Homo sapiens: one gene and its partners. The protein of the gene in region 3 interacts with the protein of the main gene of each other region in a pairwise test. Each region holds a gene or a part of one and is shown on either strand. Other genes may lie near its edges.

The links.
Region 1: the proteins of TBC1D25 (region 3) and KCNIP1 interact in binary tests that used the Homo sapiens proteins (3 or more experiments, as listed by UniProt).
Region 2: the proteins of TBC1D25 (region 3) and TRIML2 interact in binary tests that used the Homo sapiens proteins (3 or more experiments, as listed by UniProt).
Region 4: the proteins of TBC1D25 (region 3) and RAB2A interact in binary tests that used the Homo sapiens proteins (3 or more experiments, as listed by UniProt).

Annotation. Positions count from the first base shown.
Region 1 is NC_000005.10:170,717,011-170,724,038, reverse strand, and holds part of KCNIP1 (A-type potassium channel modulatory protein KCNIP1), read right to left. Parts: intron 5,282-7,028; coding exon 5,157-5,281; intron 3,719-5,156; coding exon 3,649-3,718; intron 2,282-3,648; coding exon of another isoform or gene 2,207-2,281; coding exon 2,136-2,206; intron 1,327-2,135; coding exon 1,219-1,326; intron 1-1,218. UniProt on the Homo sapiens protein: Regulatory subunit of Kv4/D (Shal)-type voltage-gated rapidly inactivating A-type potassium channels. Regulates channel density, inactivation kinetics and rate of recovery from inactivation in a calcium-dependent and isoform-specific manner.
Region 2 is NC_000004.12:188,092,577-188,099,604, forward strand, and holds part of TRIML2 (probable E3 ubiquitin-protein ligase TRIML2), read right to left. Parts: intron 6,600-7,028; coding exon 6,459-6,599; intron 5,704-6,458; coding exon of another isoform or gene 5,629-5,703; intron 4,771-5,628; coding exon 4,748-4,770; intron 4,586-4,747; coding exon 4,485-4,585; intron 447-4,484; coding exon of another isoform or gene 406-446; exon of another isoform or gene 214-405; intron 1-213.
Region 3 is NC_000023.11:48,535,428-48,542,721, reverse strand, and holds the start of TBC1D25 (TBC1 domain family member 25), read right to left. Parts: upstream 3,009-7,294; 5' UTR 2,925-3,008; coding exon 2,802-2,924; coding exon of another isoform or gene 2,790-2,801; intron 1,438-2,789; coding exon of another isoform or gene 1,390-1,437; coding exon 1,280-1,389; exon of another isoform or gene 1,268-1,279; coding exon of another isoform or gene 1,209-1,267; intron 1-1,208. UniProt on the Homo sapiens protein: Acts as a GTPase-activating protein specific for RAB33B. Involved in the regulation of autophagosome maturation, the process in which autophagosomes fuse with endosomes and lysosomes.
Region 4 is NC_000008.11:60,617,980-60,624,165, reverse strand, and holds the end of RAB2A (ras-related protein Rab-2A), read right to left. Parts: intron 5,587-6,186; coding exon 5,518-5,586; intron 3,493-5,517; coding exon 3,397-3,492; 3' UTR 522-3,396; downstream 1-521.

The DNA of each region.
Region 1 (7,028 bases), on a different chromosome or scaffold from region 3:
GGAATATGGATGGGCCCCTTACCCTAGCCCTCCACCATCTGACTCTGCTGACCTGTCAGGCTCATCCTGCACTAGTCTTCAGCTTCATACCTTCATCTGCAGCCATCTGAAGCCTTTCTGTTTTTGAAACACATGAAGCTCTATCTTGCCTCAAAGCCTCTCTAGTGGCTGTTCCTTCTGCCTGGAACACTTTTCCTGGCTTTTTGTATAACTGGTTCCAGTATGACGACACCTCCTTGGAGAGGCCTTTGCTAACCTTCCCTGCCAAAATATCTTCTACCTGCTGATTCCTTTTTGGCCTGTTTATTGTCCATCTCTCTATGCTGCTCCAGTGTGGGGCCTAGTCTGATTGTTCACCTCTTTACCTCCAGCACCTAGAACACCTAATAAGCCTTCAAATCTGTGTTAATTAAAAACATGACTAAATGAATGAGGAATGAAAGTTGGATAAACTCTCTGAGCTTACAGAGAGAAGCTTGCCGGGTTGAGGTGAAGATTGGTGCTGATATCTATACCTCCAGGCACCGTGCCTGGCACACAGGAGCTCAGCAAGTGGAGTGTTACAGGATGCCAATTTCCAGCTTCCACTGAGATACCAGGATACAGTGGATACCAAAGTGAGTTTTGAGATAGACCTGAGGGTATTTCACTGGCTAGAGACATGTCCTCTGAGGTTCTAAAAGTGCAAAGCAGTGAAGATTCAGAAATTATTTGTGATAATTTCTGTAAAGACAGCTGTACCTTCCATTACCCCCTTGGCGGTTGTATTAATAGGCAAAATAGTTTAAGGCCAATATGACCCAATTGTAGGTTCCTCTTCCTTAAAAATCTTTCTTTTCTATTCTAGGTGCTGCCTACAATTCCACCATTTCAACTTTTAGCTTTGACTTGTGGCTCCTAACCTTCCCAAATGCAGGTTCCCTAGGGAAGAGTAACTCTTCACACTGAAACAAGTCATTTTTATCCACTGTGTAATATCTACTGAATCTAGGTGACCCAGTGAGAATGAATCTGTTTAATCCTTTCTGGGCGCTTGGGAACAGGGCAGGGTAGGGCAATGAGGGAGGCCTTCTTTATTTTGCCAGGGACCAGCTCTGTTAGCCCCAAAGCAGAGCCTGCCTCATTCAGACAGTGCTATCCTCATGCCTGGGGCTGTTTTCTGTTGGGTTAGTTACCTTCACTGGAGCCCTCTCACACCCCTGGCCCCAGCTCACTTACCTCTTTGTTTATGTATCCGTCCTTGTTGATGTCATACAAATTAAATGTCCACCTTAGTTTCTCGTGGACAGTTCCTCTCAATAAAATCGACAGAGCGGTTACAAAGTCCTGAGAAGGGGAAAAGGCAGAGTGACATTAACCATCAAGCCATCAGACAGTGTGAAGCTGTGTCTTTGGGTCAGACTGTGATACTCTCACAGAATGGTGCCTCCTGCGTCCTCTTGTCTGCCTGGAGGATGTGGCTATGCTCTGTGAAGAGCTCCTGCCTTCAGTTCCCTACCCTGCCCCATTTTTTTGTTTTTTTTTGCAAGGTGCCCCCTTGAGGAAGAATGGAGCTCTGAGAGACACAGATCAACACAGCCAGCCCTGTTTTTGCCTTATCCATGGCTGCAGTGGTCTGTCTATCATCCCAGTGGCCGTATGGTCTAGTGGCTGAGGACGTGGACTGTAGGAACAGTCTGTATTGAGGGTCATTCTGCCTACATTCAAATCCATCCTTTATCATTTATGTGCTCTTTGACCTTGGGAAAACTACTCTATCTCTCTTTGCCTTACTCTCCTCTTCTGTAAAAAGGTAATCAATAATAAAACCCTACCCTATAGGGTTATTGTGGGAATTGGAGTAAATGAATTAATACATACAAAGCCCTAAGTACAGGGGCTGCCACTGGGAAGCAGTGTGCCCGGAAGCTCATACACTGTTGTTATTAGTCCCCTGAGTCCCTGAGTTCCTGCAGGCCAGGGAAAGTTGCTGCTGCTTTTCCCCATCTTTAGGAAATGCTTACAAATGGATAAACATGTCTTTGGTCTGACTGAGAGCTTTTGATGGTCCAGACCTTCCCCCAATGCCTTGAGATTTAGAGGGGGAGGTGATGCAGAACCAGAGGACCCCTAGAGTGGACCCCAGATGAGCGTACCTCGAACTTCACGGAGCCTGTCTGAGTGGTGTCGAAGGCATTGAAGAGGTAATGGGCATACGTGCTGGCATCTACAAGGCAGAAAAGGAGGGCAGGTGATGGGGGCAGGAATTCCACACAGGGAGAACCTTCCAAACAAGGCAGGGCTTCGACAAGAAAGAGAGGAGAGTGATGCTAGGGTGATGGAAAGGAGAAAATTATGGAGTGGGGCCCATTGACTCAACTCTTTGGGTTTGGGTGTGAAGTTAGATCTAGCAAAAAGTGAGATGAGCCCTTGCCCCTCCCTCTAGCCATCATGAGAAAACCATTCTCCTGCCTGTCTATGCATGGAGTCGTTGGTGTATGAATGGCACAGTGACTGCATGACAATGTTCTTCTGAACGGCCATGAATGCCTGGGATGAGCACTCACTCCAGAGTAGAGAGACCTGAACTTGGATGCCGCTGTACTACATAAGCTATGTGACTGTGGGCATCAAGCACGACCTCTCTGAGCTTCCCTTTCCTACCTCTCTACAATGGGATGTAGCAAGACCTATCTCTTGAAATTTTTTAAAAAGTATTTTAAACTACAGCTGTGCCTGGCATACAGTGAGAACTCAATAAACAGTGGCTCAGTGGAACTCAGCAAACTGCAATTCTGGGGCCTGCATGGGACAAAACTGCCTCCCCCACCTGATCTGGGTAGGGGCCCCACACACCAAGGAAGGCATCTGTCTGCTGCCAAAAAGGCCCATGAGAAACAGGGCCCAAGAAGTGTTTGGAATACTTGGATTTGCATTTTGTCAGGATCCAGGGAAGATGTCTTGCAGGAGACAGCTCTTGGTGACAGGATGCAAAGTGGCATGTGACACATGGAGGCCACAGGAGGAGTCACCGATGTGGTCCCAGGCCCATGGGGACACAGCTGGTTCCCACAGGAGTCGGGCAGGGCAACAGAGCAGCTGTTGTGGGCCTGGCACACTTGTAAACTGGCTTAATAAGCACAACTTTATGTTTCCTGCCTCTTTTTCAATTAGTTTATTTTTATAGTCTTCGGTATTTACTGAAGTTCTTTTACAAAATTCCAGCTTGTCTCAGCTATTTTAAGGAAAAGATTCAAAAGTGCCCTGCACAATGGTGGTGCCAGCATGGCAAAACCTGTTTCAGACCCTTATGGAATCTAATCCTGGTTTGCTACTCACCAGCTGTGCAATCTTGAGTACACTGCTTATCTTCCCCGAAACTCAGTTACTCCATCTGGGATTATAATACCTGCTTTCTAGAGCTGTTCTGAGACGTTGTGATGTTGCATTATCAGCCCTTCTTCCCCTTCCAGGGTGGGTTCATTTTCAGAGTTCTTTCCTGCTAAAGCTTTGGAGACTCCCACCTCTCACGATGAGGGAGGTGTCCTGCCCTGAGTTTGTCTCTTCCTCGAGAAGGAAGCAAATGGCAAGGAAGAGAGGACTTGGAGGAAGGGAAGGCTGCTTACCAGAGAGGGAGCTGGGCAAGATAGATTTCAAGGTCAGACTCACCTCCATGAGGGAAAAACTGAGCATAGATCTGCTTGAATGTGTCTTCGTTGACCACACCACTGGGGCACTCCTGTGGGAAGGGGAGAGAGTCAGCGGGAGGCATTTGAGGGCCAGCACTAGGAGAAGACTGGGCCCAGCCTTGGTGTCTGGGGTTCCTCATGATCCCCAGGGACAGGGACCTGTGCATTTCCACTTCTCCCAAGTAGTGCCATCTCAGGACTGGAGCTGCTTTGCAAAATGATGAGACATTGTCAGAGAATGGGCACTGTGAGGTGGAGAGATTTGGGGCTTTAAGATCAGAAAAACCTGGGTTTAAATCCTGGCTCAGCCAATACTAAGCTTTGTGACTTTGGCCAAGCCAGTCTCTGATCCTCAATATCCTTACCTGTAAAATGGGGGTAACAATAACTTCCCCAAGGGTATCTTATGAACCTATGTTAGGTGGTATTGAGTCCATGGTAGATGCCAAGCAGTGTAGATTTCTTCTCTTTTCTGGATGCTGTTCCCTCTGAGCCCAGTGCCTGCCTGGAAAACTTTCCCACAGGATCCTTCTCCAACTCGGCTGCCCACTGCTAATGCTGCCATCGAAGGAAAGAAGCCCTAATGGTAGGAAACTGGGCACTTGGCATGTGCAGTCAAGGCTAGTGTGGAAGGAAGAGGCATCCCAGCACCTGTCAGATAACTCCCAGGAGGGGCTGGAATCCCTGTGGGTCAGCAGTTTGGAGAACATTGAGGCTGTGGTCAGTTTGGAACTGACCCAGCTCAGCTCTACCTACAGACTGCACCTGGAGGGAGGGTGACCAGGTGCATGTCGCTGTAGCCCACCCCACTCCACACCACTCCAGGATTTGGGAATAAGATTGCACTCTGAGAGTTAAACTTAAAAAATAAATTAATATCCAGGATTGTATCTGAGAGCTCTCAAACTGGCCTGAGACTGCAGGAACACATTAATGTATTTAAAGTAACAACTAAACAAGGAACTCCCGTCCTCTGACTCCACTTTTGATTGTAACCTGGCTTCCATGTGGCTTCCAAGGAGAGCGGGTCCCAGCGAAGGGAGAGGAGTGTCTGTTTCCACTGTCAGTTCCATTTCCCAAGGTAAATTAATACACCGACATTCGGCTTACACATCAGTCTCGGTGAGCCTGGTTAGCATAAGTCAGCAGGGCCAAATCCCATTATTGTGGGGGCACCACCAGGTTGGAAGGTATGATTATGTTAAGGGCTAAGGCTTGACCCTGGGCCAGGGTGAATTCCTTGAGGATGTGCCACCCTGTGAAATTTCTGGGCAGTTGGCCGTTTACTGTCTCCTGAGGTTGCTCCATCCTCGCCTGGAGCCTTCCTTTCTAGCCAGGTGATCTCCCTCTCATGCCCCCTTTATAGAGCTGGCCTTCCTTGTACAGCCTCACATATGGGAAACGCCTTATGAGCTCCCTTGGCATTGGGGAGAGTGTAGCCTCACGTGGGAACCCCCCCCAGGCCTTCAGAGCGTGCACGGGTCTTACATTTTTGAAGCCTCGATAAAGGACCTGCAGCTCCCTCTTGGTGAAGTTGGTCTGGGCCTCGAGCTGCTCCAGTCCCTCGGGCCGATGGCAAACCATGGTCATCTCCAGCTCATCTTCAATCTTATCTGGAACCAGAGGAGATGGCATTGGAATGGTTGAGCTTGGGAGTCATTCTTGTTAGGTAACAATCTGGGCTGTCAAAAGAGTGGTGTCACGACCTGGGATCTAGGACTGTGGGCTGGGGTCACACTGCCAATGGCCTTCCTATCTTGAACCCCACTTCCCTGCCCTGTCAGCCTCTGCGTCAAACACCACACAGGGAGGGGGCTTCGGCGTTGGAGAGAAACATGTTCCCAGTGGAGGCAAAGGCAGAAGTGCTCAAAATAAATCCATATGAAAACATTTTCCTTGCTTTAAAAATAACTTCTTTGCATATTCAAATTGTTTCCCATGGAACCTTCTGAATATTCCAGAGACACAGGCAAGTAAGCAGAATGATAAACACCTCTAGACAGCAAAGGGAAACAAAATTATTTAAAGAAACAGTAAACTCTCACCATTGGGGCCAACTAGGAATGGATAGCATGATTTAGCAGAAAGTTCAAATTACGGCATGTTAAGTATTACTGATAAAAATCTGAATGTATTTACAGCGTATTGTTTTGTAATGTCTACTAGATAGCCTTAAATACTAGGAAAATATCTTAAATGGGAGCTACTTTGTACAAACCATTTGAAAGGCTCTAAAAACAGTTGTTGTAAGTAGTAGTTTAAGTATGTCTCCCTTATGGACTATAATGTAATATAAGATTGCATTAGTTATTTAGAAAGTGTCTGTCAATTAAAGCAAGGAATCTGCCCATCTTCCACTGAAGGATCACAAGGTCCAAGTCCGTGGAATTTTCAACGTTTTACCATCACAGAGGGGTAGGTGAGTGATTTCCTTTGGGCCCTGCCAGAATGTGTTCTATAAACTTACACCAATCAAGAATCAATTGCCATCTAACCTTCTCTGCCTGTTGTTGTCATGCAGATATTACCAAATCCATCTATTGAACAACTGTAAATCTGGGCTGGCAAGAATAGTGATGAGATGGGTGGCTGCTGGGAATATGCACAGACCATGTCTCATCCTGTGGCAACCCACAGCAAGCACAGGCTGAGTTGCCACATCAGGTGAGCAGGTGTATTAAATTGTGTGCATTTCTCTCATCAGTGTTGGTCTCATTGCACCAGATTTTCCCTGAAATTGTCACTTTCCCTTTTGAGACTTTGATCCCAATACAAAAGGAATCCATCAAATTAAGTTTGTATCTTGTACATATCCCCAAAGGTGATGGATGTTCGTGTGAGGCTCCCGTAACTTGGTAACAATTCCTAATTGCCATCTTTCTCATGTGCTGGGCAATACATATCACCTTATCCTGCTGGGACTAAGGCAGATGATTTGTTATAAATTAGATACTGTTTACGCCACAGAGACAAGTGGCCAATTTCCCCAGAATTCATAATTCTTACAGAGCCTTTAATTATGGTTGTGTTTGTAGCTAACAAGATAAGTAGCAATTATCTAAACGCTGAAGCATTTCTACGTAAATGAAAGGGCTTATTCTCAAAAAGAAAGAAAGAAAAGGAGAAAAATTCACATAAGTCTAATTCAGAATGCTTATATACATATTAATATTTTACATCTATTTTAACCCATTTTAACAGAGAAATTAATTGTTGGTTTGAATCTCCTAGCATTAGATCTAAAAGCATTTTTATTTTTAAAATGCACATCTGTTTATCTGTGCATATATTCACAAGAAACTTCCGAAGGGGCTGCAGAGGTTTTCACATCCCTCCTTTTGCCCCTTAGGAATTCCCTGG
Region 2 (7,028 bases), on a different chromosome or scaffold from region 3:
AGATCTCCAAGCCTGGAGCGGCCACAGGAGTCGGCCAGCAGCAACTCATTCGTGGCCCTCCCGATGCCGTACTCTACACATCTTAAATATCCCCACAGGGTGACATAGAGGCCTGGAAATTGCTGACAACAGGCCCTGGACATCAGGCATTACATCAGATAATTTATCAGCGGAGGATGGAACACCTGTGTGGACCCTCCAGAAACTCACGCTGAGAACACGCAGGCTCAATGAATTCCTCACACCTGCATGAATACGTCTTCTTCCTATCTCTGACTGTTCCTCTCATCTCTTTCTGCCCAGCCTCTAACTATTGTGATCTTTCAGGGCTTGGTCCTGGGACTTCTTCTTTCAAGTAGTATATTCTCCTTCACTGCCCCCAGGTAACTGTGCATAGCTTCAGTTTTAAACATCTTCTCTGTGTTTGTGACTCGCTCCATAAACAGCTAAATACCAGTTGGAAAAAACACAGGAATTTCAAACATAACACACCCAAAATGGAACTTCAACGCCAGCCCTCTGCAGTCTCTACTTCTCAGTTCACAGCTCCCTCATTGCTTCAGTTGTCTAAGCCATAAACCTGGAAGGCCTTTATTTCCTACTTTCTGTAATGTGGAATCCAGCTTAATTTCTATTATTTGACTGAAGTAAATTTAATGAACTTAAATCTCTGAATTTGAAGCCCAATTCACATTATTAGGGTGGTCTCAACAGCTACACGTCTTGAATTTTTAAAAAATTGTCTGAGACTCTCAGTATTTCCAGGAGACTGGCAGAAACAAATGCAAATTATCTCTGGAAAAACGCACAGCTGTGGCTGGGCACGGTGGCTCACGCTTGTAATCCCAGCATTTTAGGAGGCCGAGGAGGACGGATCACTTGAGGCCAGGACTTTGAGACCAGCCTGGCGAAACCCCATCTCTACTAAAATTACAAAAATCAGCCAGGCCTGGTGGCGGCCTGTAATCCCAGCTACTCAGGAGGGTGAGGCAGGAGCATCGCTTGCATCTGGGAGGCAGAGGTTGCAGTGAGCCGAGATCATGCCACTGCCCTCCAGCCTGAGCAACAGAGCGAGGCTCATCTCAAAAACAAAAACAAAAAAGGTTGAAGAAACAACAGGAGTATCTCAAGAGAAAAAGAACTTGATAAATTCAACATTGATTCATAAAAATTCTTAGTAAACCAGAAATAAAGGGGGACATCCTCAATTTGATGAAAGGCAGCCATTAAAAAAAACTATAGCTAGGGCCAGGTGCGGTGGCTCACGCCTTTAATCCCAGCACTTTGGGAACCTGAGGCAGGCAGATCACGAGGTTGGGAGTTCGAGACCAGCCTGACCAACAGAGTGAAACCCCGTATCTACTAAAAATACAAAAATTAGCTGAGTGTGGTGGCACTCAGCTACTCGGGAGGTTGAGGCAGGAGAATCGTTTGAATCTGGGAGGAGGAGGTTGCGGTGAGCTGAGGCTTCGCCATTGCACTCCAGCCTGGGTGACAGAGCCAGACAGCATCTCAAAAAACAAAAACAAAAACAAAAACAAAAACAAAAACAAAAAACACAAAACAACAACAAAAAGCGCTATAGCTGTATCAGAATTTAGAGTGAAAAGACTTAATGTTTTCTTTCTTCCTAAGATCGAGAATAAGCAAGTGTCCACTCTCACCACTTCTGTTCAACACACTGCAGGTCTGAGCCAGTATAATAAGGCAAGAAAAATTCAGAAAAGGCTTACAGACTGGAAAGGCAGAAATAAAGCTATCTATACTCATATACTGCATGACTTTGTAGAAAATCCTGAAGGATCTATTTATAGAAATCCACTGTCTAATGAGTGAGTTTTGCATAGTTATAGGGTACAAATGTCAATATATATAAAACAATTCCATTTCTATATACTTGCAATGAACTAGAAATGAATGAAATGTCAATTAGAAATTGATATTTTAAAATACCGTTTACAGTGGCTGTAAAAAACATAAAATACTTAGGGATACATCTCCAAATACATATAACATTTTATGCTGAAAGTGACAAAACACTGATGAGAGAAATCGAAGACCTAAATAAATGGAGATATTTTGTATTCCTGGACTGAAAGCACCAAATATTGTCAAGATGTCAATTCTCCCCAAACTGATCAACGGATTCAATGTAATATGAATAAAAATCCCAGCGGTCCATTTTGAAGAAGCCAACAAGCTGATTTCAAAATTTATGTGGAAAAGCAAACAACCTACAGTAGCCAAAACTATTCTGAAAAAGAATAAATTTGGAGAATGCACAGTACCTGCTTTCAAGACTTCCTACAGAGTTATCAATCAAGCCAGTGTGCTATTGGCAAAGGGAAAGAGTCAACCATCAATAGACCTATTAGAGTCACAAATAGACGTGATCGCATATACCAGTTGATTTTCAACAAAGGGGCCAAGTAAATTGAATGGACAAAGGTAGTGTTTTTAACAAATGAAACTGGAACAAATGGATACATGTGAGTCAAAAAATAAAAATAGAAGGTGGGGGGAGGAGAGGGTTTGCACCATTCTGTGAACTGTATACAGATATTAACTCTCAGTGGTTCATAGGCCACAATGTAAAACCGAAAACCATAAAACTTTTGGAAGGAAATCTTTGTTGGCTTTGGCAAAATTTCTTAAATAAGACACAAAAAGCAGAAGTCATAAAAGAAAAAACTTGATAAATTGAACTTCATCAAAATGCAAAACCTCTACACTTCAAAAGACAGTATTAGGAAAATGAGAATACAAACCATGCTGGGAGGAAATATTTGCAAAATTTATCTGATAAATGAATGCTAAACAGAACATATAAAGAAATTATAAAACTCAAGAGACATACAACCCAATTTAGAAAAGGGGTTTGTACATGTATTTCACCAAAGTTGAGATAGAGGGAAAACAAACACATGAAAATATGCTCAGCATCATTAGTCATTCTGGAAATGCAAATTAAAATGACATACCACTACCCATCTATCGGGTCGGATGTAGTAAAACAAACTGACAATACCAAACCCTGGTGAGAATACAGAGTAACTGAATCTTTCGCACGTTATTGGTGGGAAGGCAAAATGGCACAGGCAATTTGGAAAACAAGTTTGGCAATCCCACCCTTAGACAGTCAATCAAGAACTATGAAGCTGTGCCCACACAAAAATCTGCTGCTAATATTTACAGCACAGAGCTGGAAACAACCCATGTCCGTAGAATTGCAAAAGGATAAGTAAATTATGGTATATTTATACAATGGAATATTATCAACAATAAAAAGGAACAAACTACTGATACACGAAGCAGCCTGGACGTTCTATATGTCAACTGCAGTATGCTGTCAGCCTCGAAAGGCCACACACTGTAGGATTCCATCGATAGGACATTCTGGGAAAGGCAAAGCTATAAGGACAGGAGATATAAACCCTTTGTTATACATGCTGAATTTCTTCCCCAGAAGTTTTAAATTTTTAAGCAGTGGAATCTGCCTGCAATCATGTTTCATGGCTGGGGAACTGGTAAAGAATCTGCAGCCAGGCGTGGTGGCTCACGCCTGTAATCCCAGCACTTTGGGAGCCTGAGGCGCGTGGATCACCTGAGATCAGGAGTTCAAGACCAGCCTGACCAACATGGTAAGACCTCGTCTCTACCATAAATACAAAAAATTAGCCAGGCGTGGTGGCTCACGCCTATAATCCCAGCACTTTGGGAGCCCAAGGCGCGTGGATCACCTGAGATCAGGAGTTCAAGACCATCCTGACCAACATGGTAAGACCTCATCTCTACTATACAAAAAATTAGCCAGGTGTGGTGGTGCATGCCTGTAATCCCAGCTACTTGGGAGGCCGAGGCAGGAGAATCACTTGAACCCAGGAGGGGGAGGTTGCAGTGAGCCAAGATCGCACCACTGCACTCCAGCCTGGGCAAAGTGAAACTCTGTCTCAAAAAAAAAAAAAAAAAAAAAAAAAAAAAAGATTTTGCATGGGAAGAGCTTTCATATGAGATCATACAGTTATTTTTTTGATCCTTATCTAATATGTATAACATATTAAGCTCTCCAGTCTCCTAAAATTTTTATTTATTTATTTTAAGACAGAGTCTCATTCTGTTGCCCAGGCTGGGGTGCAGTGGTGTGATCTCAGCTCACTGCAATCTCCACCTCCTGGGTTCAAGCAATTCTCCCACCTCAGCCACTCAAGTAGCAGGGACTACAGGCACACGCCACCACAACTGGCTAATTTTCGTATTTTTTGTAGAGATGGGATTTCACCATGTTGGTTAGGCTGGTCTCGAACTCCTGGCCTCAAGCAAACCGCCCGCCTTGGCCTCCCAAAGTGCTGGGATTACAGGAGTGACCCACTGTGCTGGCCTAAAATTGTTAAACTACTGGAATTTGTTTTCATTTATGGCAGGATGGTCACCTGATTCTCAAATGCAGAACAGTGCCCTGTGAGTATTCACATGTGTCAACTTACTCTGGAGTACTCTGAACATGCTGCTGAGTCCTCTTATGTGGCATAAACTCAGGTCTGTGATATGAGCGGGCTCCAGATGCTCAAGCAGCAGTGACTTGCTCCTGAAGAGAAAGGACAGCCTCAGTCATCTGCACAGACCACAGGCCCCTTAGTCTACTGGATGGATCCCATTACATCCTACCAGCAAATGCAATCTCCCTATCTCAATCAACATCTTACTGGACTCTGATTCTCACCCAATTGTATCCAAAATGAAAACTCACCTTTCTAAAGAGTATTTTGCATTCTAAGGGAAAGAAAAGAGACCAGGTTACTACTGGGTTTTTGAGCTGTTTTTGCAATCTGTGCCCAGGAAAATATCCTCTTACAATGAACTCAATTTCCATGTCATTTCTTCAACCTCATAATGCTAGTTATCAGATGAACAAATTCTAACATGGAAACAGAAAAAGTCAGAAAAATGCATGAAATCATTTTGTCGTAGTCCCAAGGGAAAGGTTTTCTATCCCTCACCCCAGGCATCTTACTCAGAGCCATCATTTCTCAGTCTTCAGACGGGAGCATCTATCTGCTTTCCATGCAGGGGGTGGCCAGAGTTCAGCAGGTGAAGGGGCCACTGGCTGGGAGGGCAGTGGGAGCCAGGCAGAGCCACACCTGCCTGCATGCTCAAGAACTGAGCTGCTTCCTAAGGATTTACCTACAGACGCTTTCCAGATGAGCGCATTCATTGCAATTATAAGCCCAGGAGAGGGATATGGACAGTCTTAAAAAGATAGTAAGGCCAGGCGCGGTGGCTCATGCCTGTAATCCCAGCACTTTGGGAGGCCAAGGTGGGCGTATAACCTGAGGTCGGGAGTTTAAGACCAGACTGACCAACATGGTGAAACCCCGTTTCTACTAAAAATACAAAAATTAGCTGGACATGGTGGTGGGCGCCTGTAATCCCAACTACTCAGGAGGCTGAGGCAGGAGAATCGCTTGAACTGGGGAGGCGGAGGTTACAGTGAGCCGAAATTGCGCCACTGCTCCAGCCTGGGAGATAGAGCGAGACTCCGTCTCGGGGAAAAAAAAAAAAAAAAAGGTAACCCACTTTCTGAAAGGCAACGTATGTTACTATACAAAATTCAAAATATGCAATACTTACCATAGACTGAGTAGCTTCTGCACAGCAGAAATTCATTTCTCGCAGTTCTGGAGGCCGAATTTCAAGATCAAGGCACTGGCAGATTCAGTGTCCGGTGAGGGCTCCATCCCTCCTAGGTAGCCTCCATCTCCAGCCTCACAAGCTGAAGGGGTGAGGTCTTCCTCGGCCTCTTTTATAAGAGCCCTAATCCCATTCACAGGGGCTCTGCCCCCAGGCCCCACTCACTACCCAAAGGCCCCACCTCCCAATACCATCGCCTTGGGGGAGAGGATTTCAACATATATATTTTGGAGGGACACAAACATTCAGATCATAGCAGATAATCTCACCCTTGTTTCAAGATTATCACAGATGACTATACATTTATTAATTTTTTGCCAGAAAGTCTGTGAATGTTAGCAACCACACATGTATATGTGTGTGTATATATACTTATTATCCAAAGATCAAACAAAAAGCAGTCTGCATCTTTCTTTTTCACTTAATGAGTGCTTGAAATACTGTTAGTGCCTATAGAGCTGTTTTATTCTTTATGATCACAGAATATTTCATTGCATGGAGGTATTAACCACATTGTGTCACATCTCAACCCTAACTTACTGCTGATAATTTTAAGGTGAGAATTCATCTCATGAAGCAGCTCCACACTATCCCACAAAGCTATGACCATTCCTAAAGCTTTTGGCAGCTGAAAGAAAGTCATGTAGCCTTCTTTTGTGGTTGAAGATCATTGGATATTGTGTTCTGACAGCAACCCCTAATGAGTACTGTCCACTTCTCATTTCTCAAATACTGGAATGAATTTTATTTTCTTTTTCCCAGCATCTTACCTTGAGCAATGCCAAGGTGCCTTCCCCACACTTTTTCTCAAGCTCCACGATGAGCTTTAGGAGGCTGCGGACCTGTTCAGAAGCCCTGGCTTCACTCTCCTTCAGTTTCTCCATGTTCTCTCTCCCCACACGGCCCAGTCTCTGCAGAAGCATTTCTTCGTTACTATTCAACAACCTCAAGTTCAGGAACAAGAGTTCGGTAACTTCTCCTATAGATTAATTCAACCATGTTTTTAAAAACCTGCTTTTCGGTTGGGCGCAGTGGCTCACGCCTGTAATCCCAGCACTTTGGGTGGCCAAGGCCGGCGGATCATGAGGTCAGGGTTTGAGACCAGCCTGGCCAACATGGTGAAACCCAGTCTCCACTAGAAGTACAAAAATTAGCCAGGCGTGGTGGCGGGTGCCTGTAATCCCAGCTACTCAGGAGGCTGAGGCAGGAGAATCGCTTGAACCTGGGAGGCAGACGTTGCAGTGAGCCAAGATCGTGCCACTGCACTCCAGCCTGAATGACAGAGCAAGACTCCAAATCAAAAAAAAAAACCAAAACCAAAACCAAAAAAAAAAAAACCC
Region 3 (7,294 bases):
GGAGGCCGAGGTGGGCGGATCACTTGAGATCAGGAGTTTGAGACCAGCCTGACCAACCTCATGAAAATTAGCTGAGTGTGGTGGTGCACACCTGTAATCCCAGCTACTCTGGAGGCTGAGGCATGAGAATCACTTGAACCCGGGAGGCAAAGGCTGCAATGAGCCAACATCGGACCACTGCACTCCAACCTAAGTGACAGAGTGAGACTCTGTCTCCAAAAAAAAAAAAAAGAGAAGATCAAAAAACTATCTGGGACTGGGTGCGGGGGCTTACACCTGTAATCCTAGCACTTTGGGAGGCCGAGGTGGACAGGTAACTTGAGGTCAGGTGTTCGAGACTAGCCTGACCAACATGGTGAAACCTTGTCTCTAATAAAAATACAAAAATTAGCAGGCGTGGTGGTGCGTGCCTGTAATCCCAGCTACTTGGGAGGCTGAGGCAGGAGAATCACTTGAACCCGGGAAGCGGAGGTTGCAGTGAGCTGAGACTGCGCCACTGCACTGCAGCCCGGGGGACAAGAGCAAAACTCCGTCTCAAAAAAAAAAAAAAAAAAAATTATCCGGGCATAGTGGTGCATGCCTGTAGTCCCAGCTACTTGGGAGGCTGTGACAGGAGAATCACTTGAACCTGGGAGATGTCACTGCACTGCAGCCTGGGTGACAGTTAGACTCCATCTCAAAAAAAAAAAAAAAAAGAAATAAAAAGGAAAATGCATTTAACACATTTATCCTACCAAACATCACAGGTTAGCCTAGCCTACCTTAAACGTGCTCAGAACGCTCACATTAGCCTACAGTTGGGAAAATCATCTAACACAGAGTCTGTTTTACAACAGTGTTGAATATTTCATGTAATTTATTGAACACTGTACTGAAAGTGAAAAGCAGAATCGCTGGGCACTTGCAGTACAGTTTCTACCAAATGCGTATCGCTTTTGCACCATTGTAAAGTTGAAAAATCCTAAGTCCAGTTATTGTAAGTTGGGGACTGTCTGTAAACTGTAATAAAAGTAATATGAATGTGGTCTCTCTCTCTCTCTCAAAATATCTTATTGTATGTAATATTTGCAGACTGAGGTTGACCATGGGTAACTGAAACTGCAGAAAGCAAAACCACAGACAAAAGTAGACTACTGTGCTCCAAGACATGCATACGTGGCTGTTCACTGTGGGATTATTTGTAGTAGTAAAATAAACAAAAACCCTACCAAACAAAGGCCAGATAGCCACTGTAGAGGTCGGTGGCCCACTGGCCAGTCCCCAGCATCTTCCCACTCACCCACTCAAATCAAAGGCTCGGATGAGGATGTGCTGCAACACGTCGAGCGAGGTGATCTGGGGATCTACAGCAAAAGAGCGGAACTCTGGCGGCAAGAAGCTCTCACATTTCTGGGGAGAGAAGACATGGGGTAGGCCACCAGGGGCCCCATCACCATGCTGAAGAGTGAGGTGCAGAGTGGTAGAAGGCAAAGTCAGAGAGGTGCCAGGGGCCAGATCAAGGCAGGTGTTCTGGACCACAGGGTCCAGTGAGGAGGAGGCTACTGCAAGAGTTCAGGCCCCCAATCCTTCTTCTATATCCCTTCAACTATGGTTGCCAGAATCACCGTGTCCAGTCTGGCTCCTGTTAAATCAGTCCTCTATGGTGCTGTAACCAATCTAACACATCTACCTACAACACTCCCCTGCTTCAATCTCTTCAATGGCAACCCTAGAGTCCCAGCAAGCGGGCCTATGGGGCCCCAGCCAGCCTCTCACCAGGTTTTTTGAACTTTACACTCTAGTAGTACCAAACTGTTAGAAGTTACCTTGAAACCATCCTGACTCCAGGCCATTGATTGTGCTGATCCCCTGTCTGGAACATCCCTCCCACTTTCTTCACGTGGTTCACGCCCAGCTCAGGCATCATCTTTTTTCTGAATGTCAAACTTCTACCTTAGAGCTCTATTACACTGAAGTGATGTGTGGACCCTCTTATCACTGCCAGTGCCACTGGTTGGTCGGAGCCACCATCATTGTTTACTGGAACTATGGCAACAGCGTTCTTCCTCAGCATACACACCAAAGGCCCTTGGCGATCTGTCTCTGTCTTAGCGCTCTGATTCACCTCCTACCACTCTTCCCCTCATTCTCTCCACTCCAGCAATCAGGAACCTACGGGAACATGCCAGGCTCATTCCCATCCTCTAGTCTTTGCCCTTGCTATTCCTTCTGCCTAGAATACTCTTCCCTTCTAATATGCACATGGCTGACTCCTTTTATTCGGGTCTCTGCTCCTTCAATACCTCCTCTGGGGATTTCCCTGTACAACCTTGGCTAACGTGACTCCCTATTTCATAACCTTTTTCATTATTTTAGTGTCCGAAGCATCTCATTTCTTTAGTTGTCTCCACCCACGAGCCTGTCAGCTCATCAAAGTGGGAACTTGCACATAAGTGCACTCTCAACACATGGGTTGACTGACTCCAGAGCCAGCACCTTCTCATTCCTCAGAGCCCCACCCTCAACTACTGCGGCCCCTCCTCCAGCCCCATAGCCCCTCCCCTTTGTCTATAAGCTCCACCCATTCATCCCATAGACCCCCGCCTCGTCCCTCTATTTTCAGTCCCACGCCCCAAGGTACGTCGCTAACGCTCTCAGGCTCTCAGGCCCTCCCTACCCCTCGCCATCATCACTTGGCCCTCAAGCTTCGCCGCTCAGGTTATGTCCGAAATCTCAGGTCCCGCCCTCCATCCTATGACAGCCACCGCCTCCCCCTCCCCTGGGATGCCTCGGCGGCTGGGCCGACTCACCGCCAGCCTCACCTTGACTCGGACCCGCACCACCTCTCGCTCCTCCTCCTCAGCGGCCGCCGCCGCCTGAGCTCCCACACCGGGCGGGGGCGCTCCGGAGCCAGACAAGTCCGAGGCCCCGGAGGCTGTTGCCATCCCGCCGCCGCCCGTCTCAGGGTGACGGCTGACCGTTGCCCCCCACCCCGGCGCACACTCTACTGTACTGACGCCCGCCGCCCCACCTCGTGCCGGGGCGCAGGCGCAGAGGGCGCCGCGCGACCCTACCCCCCACCGTCCCTCCCACCTGGCCCTGCCTGGAGGTCGCCTCTGCGCCTGCGCCTAGAGTGCTGTTGCCAGGAGCCCCGCCCCCAAAAGTCGGGCATTTTGCTCTATTTCAGCTAGCGTGCAGACGCCTACTGAGGCCCCGCCTCCCCCAGCCCCGTGGTTTGGTTGTTTTGACAGCATACTTCCGGATTCACGGAGGTGTTAAACTGACGCCTCGTTCGCCAAGAGAAGGGGGCGGGGAAAGGAAGAGGCTGCGTGATGACGTCAGGCCCACACCCCGCCTCAAGTTGCCTCACGCCTCTGCTGGCAGATGATGTCATCTATTTCAAATACCAGTGGCCCTCGCTTCAAATGAATCCACTGAACAGAAAAAAATCCTTTTTTTTTTTATTTTTTTAGGCAGGGTCTCGCTCTGTCATCCAGGTTGGAGTGCAATGGCGCGATCACAGCTCACTGTAGCCTCAAAGTGAGCTATGATCAAGCGATCCTCCTGCCTCAGCCTCCCAAGAGCTGGGACTACAGGCGCGTGCTACCACGCCCAGCCAATTTTTGTATATCTTGTATAAACAGGGTTTAGCTGTGTTGCCCAGGCTAGTCTCGAACTCCTGACCTCAAGTGATCCACCCGTCTCGGCCTCTCAAAGTGTTGGGATTACAGGTGTGAGCCACAGCCCTCGGGTAAAGTGTTTTTAAAAATATACTCAGCAGGGTGCAGTGGCTCACGCCTTATAATCTCAGCACTTTGGGAGGCCGAGGCGGGCTGATCGCTTGAGCCCAGGAGTTCTAGACCAGCCTGGGCAACACAGCGAGACCCCGTCTCTAACAAAAAATTAAACAATTAGCTGGACGTGGTGGCGCACACCTGCAGTCCCAGCTACTCGGGAGGCTGAAGCGGCAGGATGGCTGAGCCCAGGAAGTCAAGGCTGCAGTGAGCGGTGATCACACCACTGCCCTAACCTGCACCACAGAGCAAGGCCCTGTTTCAAAAAAAATTAATAATTTATACCCTGACTTAGTAAGGTCAGATAAAACAGGAAAATGGTTTACACATTGTGAAAATTCATGGAGATTTTGTACACTGATGATTTTTGTACTTCCTGTATGAATGTTATACTTCATTAAATAATTTGCCCCCAAAAAACACTATTATGCTCTCTGGAGTTCTAGCTTTTTAGTTTGCCTTTGTCTGAAACTTGACGAGATCATACTTTCCCAAGTTTACACATCTAGGAGGCAAATTTCCAGGTAATTCAACTCCAGGAAGGACACTAATGCTTCTAATTGAAACCCAGGAAGAAGTTAACAATCAAGCCTTCAGAAGGCAGAAAGCGAGACAGACCCAGGGAGCTCAGCAGCATATCTCTAAAGCTCTGCCATTATTGAACCAGCTCAAAGGATCCCCGGTCTTTGTGTCCCTTTTCCAAGTTTCACATTCTCAGATCTTGGGGAATCACTGAATCACTGGAAAAGCCCTCTGTCCAGCTTGGTCTAGAGATTTCTTTGAAACCTGACTAAAATGTTGGTACTGACTGCCAGGGACCAGTTGAAAGAGAAGTGGCCAGGCTCAACTACGAACCAATCAATGGGGCCCAAATGATACCATCTATAAAAGATCAGCTTTTTGGGGTCCCAGAGCAGGGTGGATAATGGATCCGGAAGAGCAAATGGGGAATGCCCAGCAGAGCATGCAAAAGGCTCAGCAATGTGCTGAGCACATAGTTAGTGATCAAAACAATGAATGGAAGAAGCCAAGAATAAATGAAGAAAAATTTTAAAAAATAAACTGAGTCAGGCACAGTGGCTCACACTTGTAATCCCAGCACTTTGGGAGGCCGAAGTGGGAAGATCGCTTGAGCCGGGGAGTTTGAGACCAGCCTGGGCAACATAGGAAGACCCTGTCCCTACAAAATTAAAAAAAAAAAATTAGCTGGGTCTGATGGTGCGCACCTGTGCTCCTAGCTATTCGGGAGGCTGAGGTGGGAGGATTACTTGAGCCTGGGAGGTCCAGGCTGCAATGGAGTTGTGATCACGCCACTACACTCCAGCCTGGGTGACAGAGTGAGAACCTGATTAAAAAAAAAAAAAAGCCCACAAAACTTTGCTTTTGTCTTACCTAATCTTCATAACATGTTAAGGTTGGTCCTGTTCTTAAATGGTGTATGTCTACTAGATATTGGCTGAATTATTGAATATATCTTAGACTCTTCTGAGAAACTTTATATGTGGCAAAATGCAAAAAGGCAGTCTTCCCACTTAATTGCACAACATCCGTGCGGTTTGGACAAAATACAGGCTGCACTTACAAATGTTATTTCTGGCCGGGCACAGTGGCTCACGCCTGTAATCCCAGCACTTTAGGAGGCCGAGGCGGGCGGATTACGAGGTCAGGAGATGGAGACCATCCTGGCTAACACGGTGAAACCCCGTCTCTACCAAAAATACAAAATAATTAGCCAGGCGTGGTGGCGGGCGCCTGTAGTCCCAGCTACTCGGGAGGCTGAGGCAGGAGAATGGTGTGAACCTGGGAGGCGGAGCTTGCAGTGAGCCGCCACTGCACTCCAGCCTGCACTCCAACCTGGGCAACAGAGCGAGACTCCGTCTCAAAAAAAAAAAGTAAACAAAAAACAAAAACAAATGTTATTTCCAACAAAGGAGTCTTGTAAGATACTAGCACTCCAACTATTGTGTCCGTGTCATATGGACGCAACCCTCAAGGTTAACTTTTTAGGTAAGTCTGCAATTCTATTTTGGTGTCTTTTAAGACAACATGTTGCCTTGGTATTAACATTAAATAGATATCTCTATTTTTAGAAGGTATAAATAATGGGGATTTTCTCTGAAAGCCAGAAAAGGATTATTGGCATGTCTCTCTTGCCCCATGTGTTTAGAGTCAAAATCACTTATAGCACTGCTGGATTTTCTGATGGAAACAAGGAGTAAGAGCCTGCTTTTCATTTATCATAGGGTGGGATGTGCAAACCATTAGCCTGGAGTTTGGAATCGATCCTAAGGACACTGGGGCAAAGGTTTAGACAGGGGTATGATGTGGTCAGATGCCTCTGTCTTGGTCCTGGGGAGAGCTTTGGATGGAAAGATACTGGAAGCAAGGAGATCAAAAAGGAGGTCCTTGCCATAGTCCTGGGGAGAACTTTCTTTTTTGTTTATTCATTCTTCCATTCAACAAATATAAAGTATATGCTAGGCAGTCTACATAAATTAATTCTTATAATCTGCATAAAAACCCTATGAGGTAGTATCTTAGTCCATTTTTCTGTTGCTATAATCAAATACCCAAGACTGGGTAATTTATAAAGAAATTTGAGAGGCTGAGGTGGGAGGATTGCTTTGAGGCCAGTTCAAAACAGCCTCAGCAACATAGCAAGACCCTGTCTCTACAAAAAAATTTAAAAATTAGCTGAGCATGGCAGTATGCCTGTAGTACTAGCTACTTAGGAGGCTGAGGCAGGAGGATTGCTTATGCTCAGAAGTTTGAGGCTGCAGTGAGCTGTGATCATGCCACTACACTCTAGTCTGGGTGACAGAGTGAGACCCTGTCTCTAAAAACAACAACAACAACAACACCCCCCCCCCACCAAAAAAAAAAAAGAAAGAAAAGAAATTTATTTCTTACAGTTCTGGAGGCTGGGAAGTCCATGGTCAAGGAGTCACATCTGGTGAGGGCCTTCTGCTGGTGGGGCCTCTCTGTGGAGTGGCGAGGCAGAGCAGGGCATCACATGGTAAGGGTGCTGACCTTGCTAGCTCAGATCTGTTTCTCCTCTTAGAAAACCACTAATGCCCCACCCTTATGACCTCATCTAATCTAATCCTAATTACCGCTCAAGGTCCCATCTCTCAAATACCGTAGTCAGATTTCCCACCTCCTTAATTCTGTTAAAAAAGAGATTTAGTTTCAACATGAGTTTTGGAGGGGAGAAACATTCGAACCATAGCAGGTAGGTGTTATTACTCTAAGCATTCTACAGATTAGAGTACTGAAAGCCAGGGAGAAACAAGCTCAAGGTCAAAGGGGGTAGTGTCACAGAGAGTAGGCAGTGCAATGGATGGAACTTGGGGCTATGCCTGTTGTGTTTGAGGAAAAGCAAGGAAGTCAGCATGCCTTTAAGTAGAGTGAATGATAGGTGAGTGACAGCAGACGAGGTGAGAATAGAGTGAGATCATGCAGGGCTTTGACCTTAACAGTGAGGCATTTCTCCAAAGCTATATACTGTAGGCCTAAGCAGA
Region 4 (6,186 bases), on a different chromosome or scaffold from region 3:
AAAATGCATTTTAGGGACACTTTGTATGTTTTTTGTAAATTGCTCATTTTCCTCCATTTTTCTATCAGGAGTTTGGTGCTTTGTCCTTCAATGTTTAAGAATTGGCCTCATAATTTTGTAAAACTAATTAATACTAATATATAGACTGGCACTTAGTTTTTGGCCAGGCATGGTGGCTCACACCTGTAACCCCAGCACTTTGGGAGGCTGAGGTGGGCAGATGACCTAAGGTCAGGAGTCTGAGACCAGCCTGGCCAACATGGCAAAACCCCGTCTCTACTAAAAATACAAAGTAGCCGGGCGTGGTGGCAGGGACCTCTAATCCCAGCTACTTGGGAGGCTGAGGCATGAGAATCACTTGAACCTGGGGAGGTGGAGGTCACAGTGAGCCAAGACGGCGCCACTGCACTCCAGCCTGGGGGATTAGAGTGAGACCTGTCTCCCAAAATAAACAAAATAAATAAAATGAAGTTCTCTGTCGTGACTTCAACCAAAAAATAATAATACCTAGTACATCCGAATGCAGTATGAGATGATCTACTGTGGCGTTAGGCTTTATTTTAATGTAAACATAAAGCACACATCTAAACTCTGAGAAATACAGGTAGATATGCTGGTTTACCTATTTGTATAGTCAATTCCTGTTTATTATGAAACAGCGTTATCTCTTTGTGTATCTTTTAGCTCATATAGTCAAACCCCATGCTGCCAACCTCAGGACTAAATAAACTGAGATGGGGCTTTACTATCTATGACAGAATAAATGTTTAAGGTGTTGCAAAGCCAGACATGAATCAGTTTTTCTGAGTGATTGGAAACATTTTGGTACGATTTATATCCTAACTCTTTTTGACCATTAGCAGATAAATAGGGACTATTTTCCTGCTAACAGGCTATTTTAAAATATCATTAAAAACAAATTGTATGCAGTTGTATATCCTGTTTCAGTTGTATATCTAATTATATGCCACATTCTTTCAAAAAATTGGCTTTTCATTCAGTTGTCTTAAATTTGCAAGACGAATGGTAACAATGTCTTTATGAAGATCACAATTTTGAATGTTACATGTTGAGTGAGACATTGAAAGCTGTGTTTATTTTTTTCAGTGACTGATTTTCTATGTCCATAGATGCTATAAAAACTGATCGAAGATCAACTAAAAATTCAATTACAATATTACAAATTCAACTGCAGGTACCAATATTACATTATTTGACAGGGATAATAAAATGAGCAAAGACTGGAAATCACAGACAATAACATTGCTTTCTCAATTAACAGAAAGGATTCATAACATATTCCTTAACGGTAGATGTGATTTGTAGAGAATGTGGAAAAGAACTATTGAGAAGTCCACCTGCTGCCCCAGACTGAGGCACATTAGGGTGGTTGTGGGAGGAGTTATATTTGAGGGTTCCATTTTTCCTTAGGGTATTAAAATGCATGTCCTGGTTTGTTGTTTATTTGCCATTAAGTTCTCTTCTTCAAATAAAAGAATTAGGGGAGAAAGTATGGAAAAGAAACGCACTAAACTTCTGGAAAAATTAACAGAAGCTTAAAAATAACAATTTCCAAAGAATCATTCTCTTCTTGGTATAGAGCAGTACCTGTCCTAGTTGCCTTAACTTTTTGTACTCACTGGTAAAGACAGTGATTAGTAAGACCAGTGAATTTGATACAGCCACTTGAAAGAAAAAAAGGCTGTACTACAAATACCCATGAAAACAGATTTTCTCTCACCCTTCCCTCTGCCCTCAAGGAGACAGTTAAAACAAAACTATGACAGCATTTGGTGATTTCCCACAAGAGTACTGTCAAACCTTTGAGAGAGTACTGCTGAATCTTCAGGGAAGACCTGTAGAAAGTTGAAGGCCATGAGCGAAATGAAAGTAGTTAGTTTCAGAGTTAGAACTTCTTTATGCTTTCTTTCAGGCATAAGTGCTTTTGTGCTAGTTCAGGAGAAAACACTTGCTTACACTGCTTACACCATCAACAAAAATAATTTCAGTATGGTGAGATTTGTCGCATTTTAGCAAAATTTTTAAAAAGGGTTGAGTGTTAACCATTCTGACCCTTTTAAAAAACATGCTTAAACCCATGTAAAAGCTGTAAGTGGACTAAAAATACATTAAAAAAGAGGTGGTCATAATAAAAAAAAAGAACACTTTTATACATAGGATTTTATTTTGCACTGCTGTAACAATTTCATTATAGACCAAGGGAGAAAAAGAAAAAAAGGATAAAACCACCACACTGAGTAAATTACTAAAGCTTTTCTACTTTGTAACAGGATTTTCCATCTGATAGATTTATTGTCATATCCCCTTCAAAACAGACAAGATGCTCACCATATTTTAAAGATTATAGAGGTTGCCACTGAAAGAAAAATTTTACACAGTCACTGTACATCAAGGTTGAAAAACTGTCCTGCATGAAAAATATACTTAGAAATCATGTGAATAAAAGAAAAAAGAAAACATTATTGTGTTTAAGGAAAGATTAAAGTCCTCATAATGTGCCATCTAAATGTGGATACTCATTCTTCTTGGAGTCGCTAAGATGTAGAAATTTCTTGCTTCTGCCCTTTTCACTCATTATACTGTGTTTTTTCCCAACAGTATTCATTAAGGCAAACAAATCCCTTTCTGAAGAGGTCTTAAGGAAATTGTGGACAAAGCAAACTTTTGGCATTAAAACAGGTTAACATATACAAAGCCTTTGTAATATACATTAAGCATATTTTTCTTGGACTAGTGACAAGAAAAGATGAACATGCTTGTTAACAATGTCAAAAAGTTTAAAATTCAGTGTCCAAGCAATTCCTAACAATGCTTCTGTAGCTTTAAGCTCTAAACAGTATAGAATTTATGCAAATGCATTAAAGAATTCAAGCTTGGCAAATTACACCCAAGCAGGTTATTAAACTATATATACAGAAAGTAAATGATAAATACAGAATTAAAAGAGTCCTTCTGTTTCCTTATAGCCGTGAAAATTGACAAAGTTTCTGAGGACAGTTCTATAATATTAAACATTAGGTAACCACAGATGTTGGGAAACCTAACTACACAAACCGATTTAAAATACTCAAGATGACTTTGTAGTGTTTAATACAATTCAGTTCGTAGTTAAGGGCACAAGACAACATTTAACAAAAATAATCACATCAATTGACCTAGAAATCAAATGCAAATAGATATGAATACAATCTCCAAAATCTGTCTTTTAAGTGAACATTAACCATTTATTCAAAGTTATACAAGAATTTGACGGATTAAAGTCTTCTGTGACATAAAGCCATTTCAAATAGTTTCATGTCTCAGCTGAGCAGGAGGAGAGGGGGTGAAAGAATAAGTGAGTAGGCCCCGTTGGGCAGCTAGACAGTAAAAACAGACTCAACAGCAGCCGCCCCCAGCCTGCTGTCCTCCCTGATTGCCTGCATGTGTTGCATTGGTAGCAGCATGCTGAGGGCCAATTTTAATGCCATTTGCCTGAAATAAAAGAGAACAGAACAATAAATATGACCAGACAATATAGTTTAACTAATTCTTAAAAAACTCATTTAATTCTTTATGATACAATTTTATCAAACAACTGAGAAAAATACAGCAAGTAGATTTTAGCAACAATTAAAACAATATCTCCTAAGGGATGTTCCTTCCTTTTAAAAACACTGTGGAAATGTTTCTGAAAATAATTCTTTATCATACCAGGTACGGGGTAAACAGTTATTGGATAATGCTGCTTTTCAGGAAATTCTCATAATGCAGAAATCATTTAAAATAATTATTGCAAGTAATCTTTAAAGCATAAAAATACCCAAAGCCCATGCTGCTTTAATACAACGTAAAATCTTTTCTCTAGACAGTGTTTCTGTTCCATGTTGAATCAGCTGTACAGGCTAAGGGCATATGAGTGTTCTGTGTCATCAATAATTTCTATGATCCCCAAAGACATGGCAGCTTGCCAAGAACCCACACACAGAGTAGTTCTTTCATTCATCAAACTCACACTTATGTCTTAACCCTCACTCCCTCAAGTGGATTTTACCTAAAAATACAACACTTTGAGAAAAGTAATACAGTAGCTTCAGAAATTAAGCTCTTAAGGAAACTTTACGTCACAGTAAATCTCAGATTTATAGTGCTTGGCAGTTGTTCTGCAACAGTAGTAGCCTTGGGGTTTCTGGCACTAGCTCAGTATTGACAGCAGCTGATGTGGTTTCTTTTCGCTCTTTTGACTCCTCTTTAATAAAAAGCATGCCCTATGGCTCATTGATTTTGCCCCCTCTGGGCTGGTAGCAACTTCTTGAGGAGTCAAGGAGTCAGACTTGGCATTAGGCCAAATAAATAGCACGGCCTGTTGGCTCCCAACAGCACATTACAATCAAAGCTGCATAAGGCACAGTAAAGCAGTCAGCTACTATATGAAACCAGACAGAAACAATGAATGTGCCCTTTTAGATAGAGGCCCAATTACTGTTCAATTTATATGGCATTAGTCTCTGAATGGTGTCACCTTTAAACTAACTCAAGAAGTACCGTCATATAAGCCTAGAAGATAGGATTTAGAAACTATATTACTCCAAATTAAACAATGAAAAAATCATGTACTTTTTGGAAACCTTAGGTAAACTGCTGTTTGTCTGAGCAGAGACTACTGAAGTAATAGAGAGCCTCATTTATGTATAGGATGAGAGAGACATACATAATGGCTTCCTAACACAATGCTTTTCTAACTGCAACTGGGGAGAAACCAGGGCTTTTCTTTCAGAAGCCAGAAATCTTAATACAGAATGGCAAAAATATTTATGTAAGAATAAGTAGGCTACATCCACATAAACATTTTGAAATAAATACAGATAAATGCAGAGTGGGGATGTGGGTCAAGTGATGATCTTTGGTGAACACTCTGAATTAGATGCTTCAAAGCTTTACATTTTATCCTAATCATGTTGACCAAAACAGGATCAAAATAACATTACAAAAAACCCTATGCCAAATGCCAATTTTATATATATATATATGAATTTAGTCTCCTGAAAACATGCTATGCTATATTGGGAGTAATTTCCAAATTTGGTATTTCCCTCTTTCCTGCCAGATAACAGAGAGAGCATCTTGCATTAGTACATAGTACATGCATTTATATACCAGAACATTATTCCCAAAGCAGATGACACCATATGGTCATGTGGATAAAAGTGGATTTTCTTTTCTCTTTGGGGGATTTATATTATTTTGCATTGCTTGCAATGAATGGATAGGGCCACTTACTTTAATCCATTTCCATAGACAAAGTGTTGCTCTACTAGAACATAAATATTTAACTACTATACCACATATACCAATTTTTCAGTTGGATGACTGTAAACTAATGGTGTTAACTGATTATCATGATTGATTTTAGGAATTAAAAAAATTATAAAATAATGAATTATAAAATAAAAAATATAAAATAGTAATCAAAAGTGAACTCTAAATTAATATTGACCAACAATATTTATATGTATATACCTCATTATTAATGTCAAAGACTCCTTCTTGAATTTTTTCATAAATTTCTTTTGCTGTATTAATAAATGCCTGAAATATAGAGAAATTGGTTCATATTATATAAAACCAAAGCAGTAAAATAACATTATATATGCTCTATAGAATATCATAACATTCAACATATGAAAGTCAATCGACGTAATACATATTAATAAAGAACAAAGATATTAATAACATATTAATAAAGAACAATCGATGTAATACATTATATTAATAAACAAGCCCTCATGATCATCAATAGACATAGAAAAAGCATTTGACAAAATCCAACATTTCATGATAAAAACACTCAAGTCGAAATAGAAGGGAACTCCTCAACCTGATCTAAAGAATGGCATCTAAGAAAAACTACATCTAACATCATATTCGAAGATGAAGGCTGAAAGCCTTTCCCCTAAGATTAAGAACAAAGGATGTACGCACATGCTAATTAGCATTACAAACAGCATTATTCACAACAGCCAACAAGTGCAAACTACAGAAATGTTCAGTCAATAAAAAACAAAATTTGAGATATTCAATTAGTAGAATATTATTTGGCCATAAAAAGGAATGAAGTACTGATTCATGCTACAATGTGGATGAACCTTGAAAACACTGTGCTAAATGAAAGAAGGCAGACACAAAACG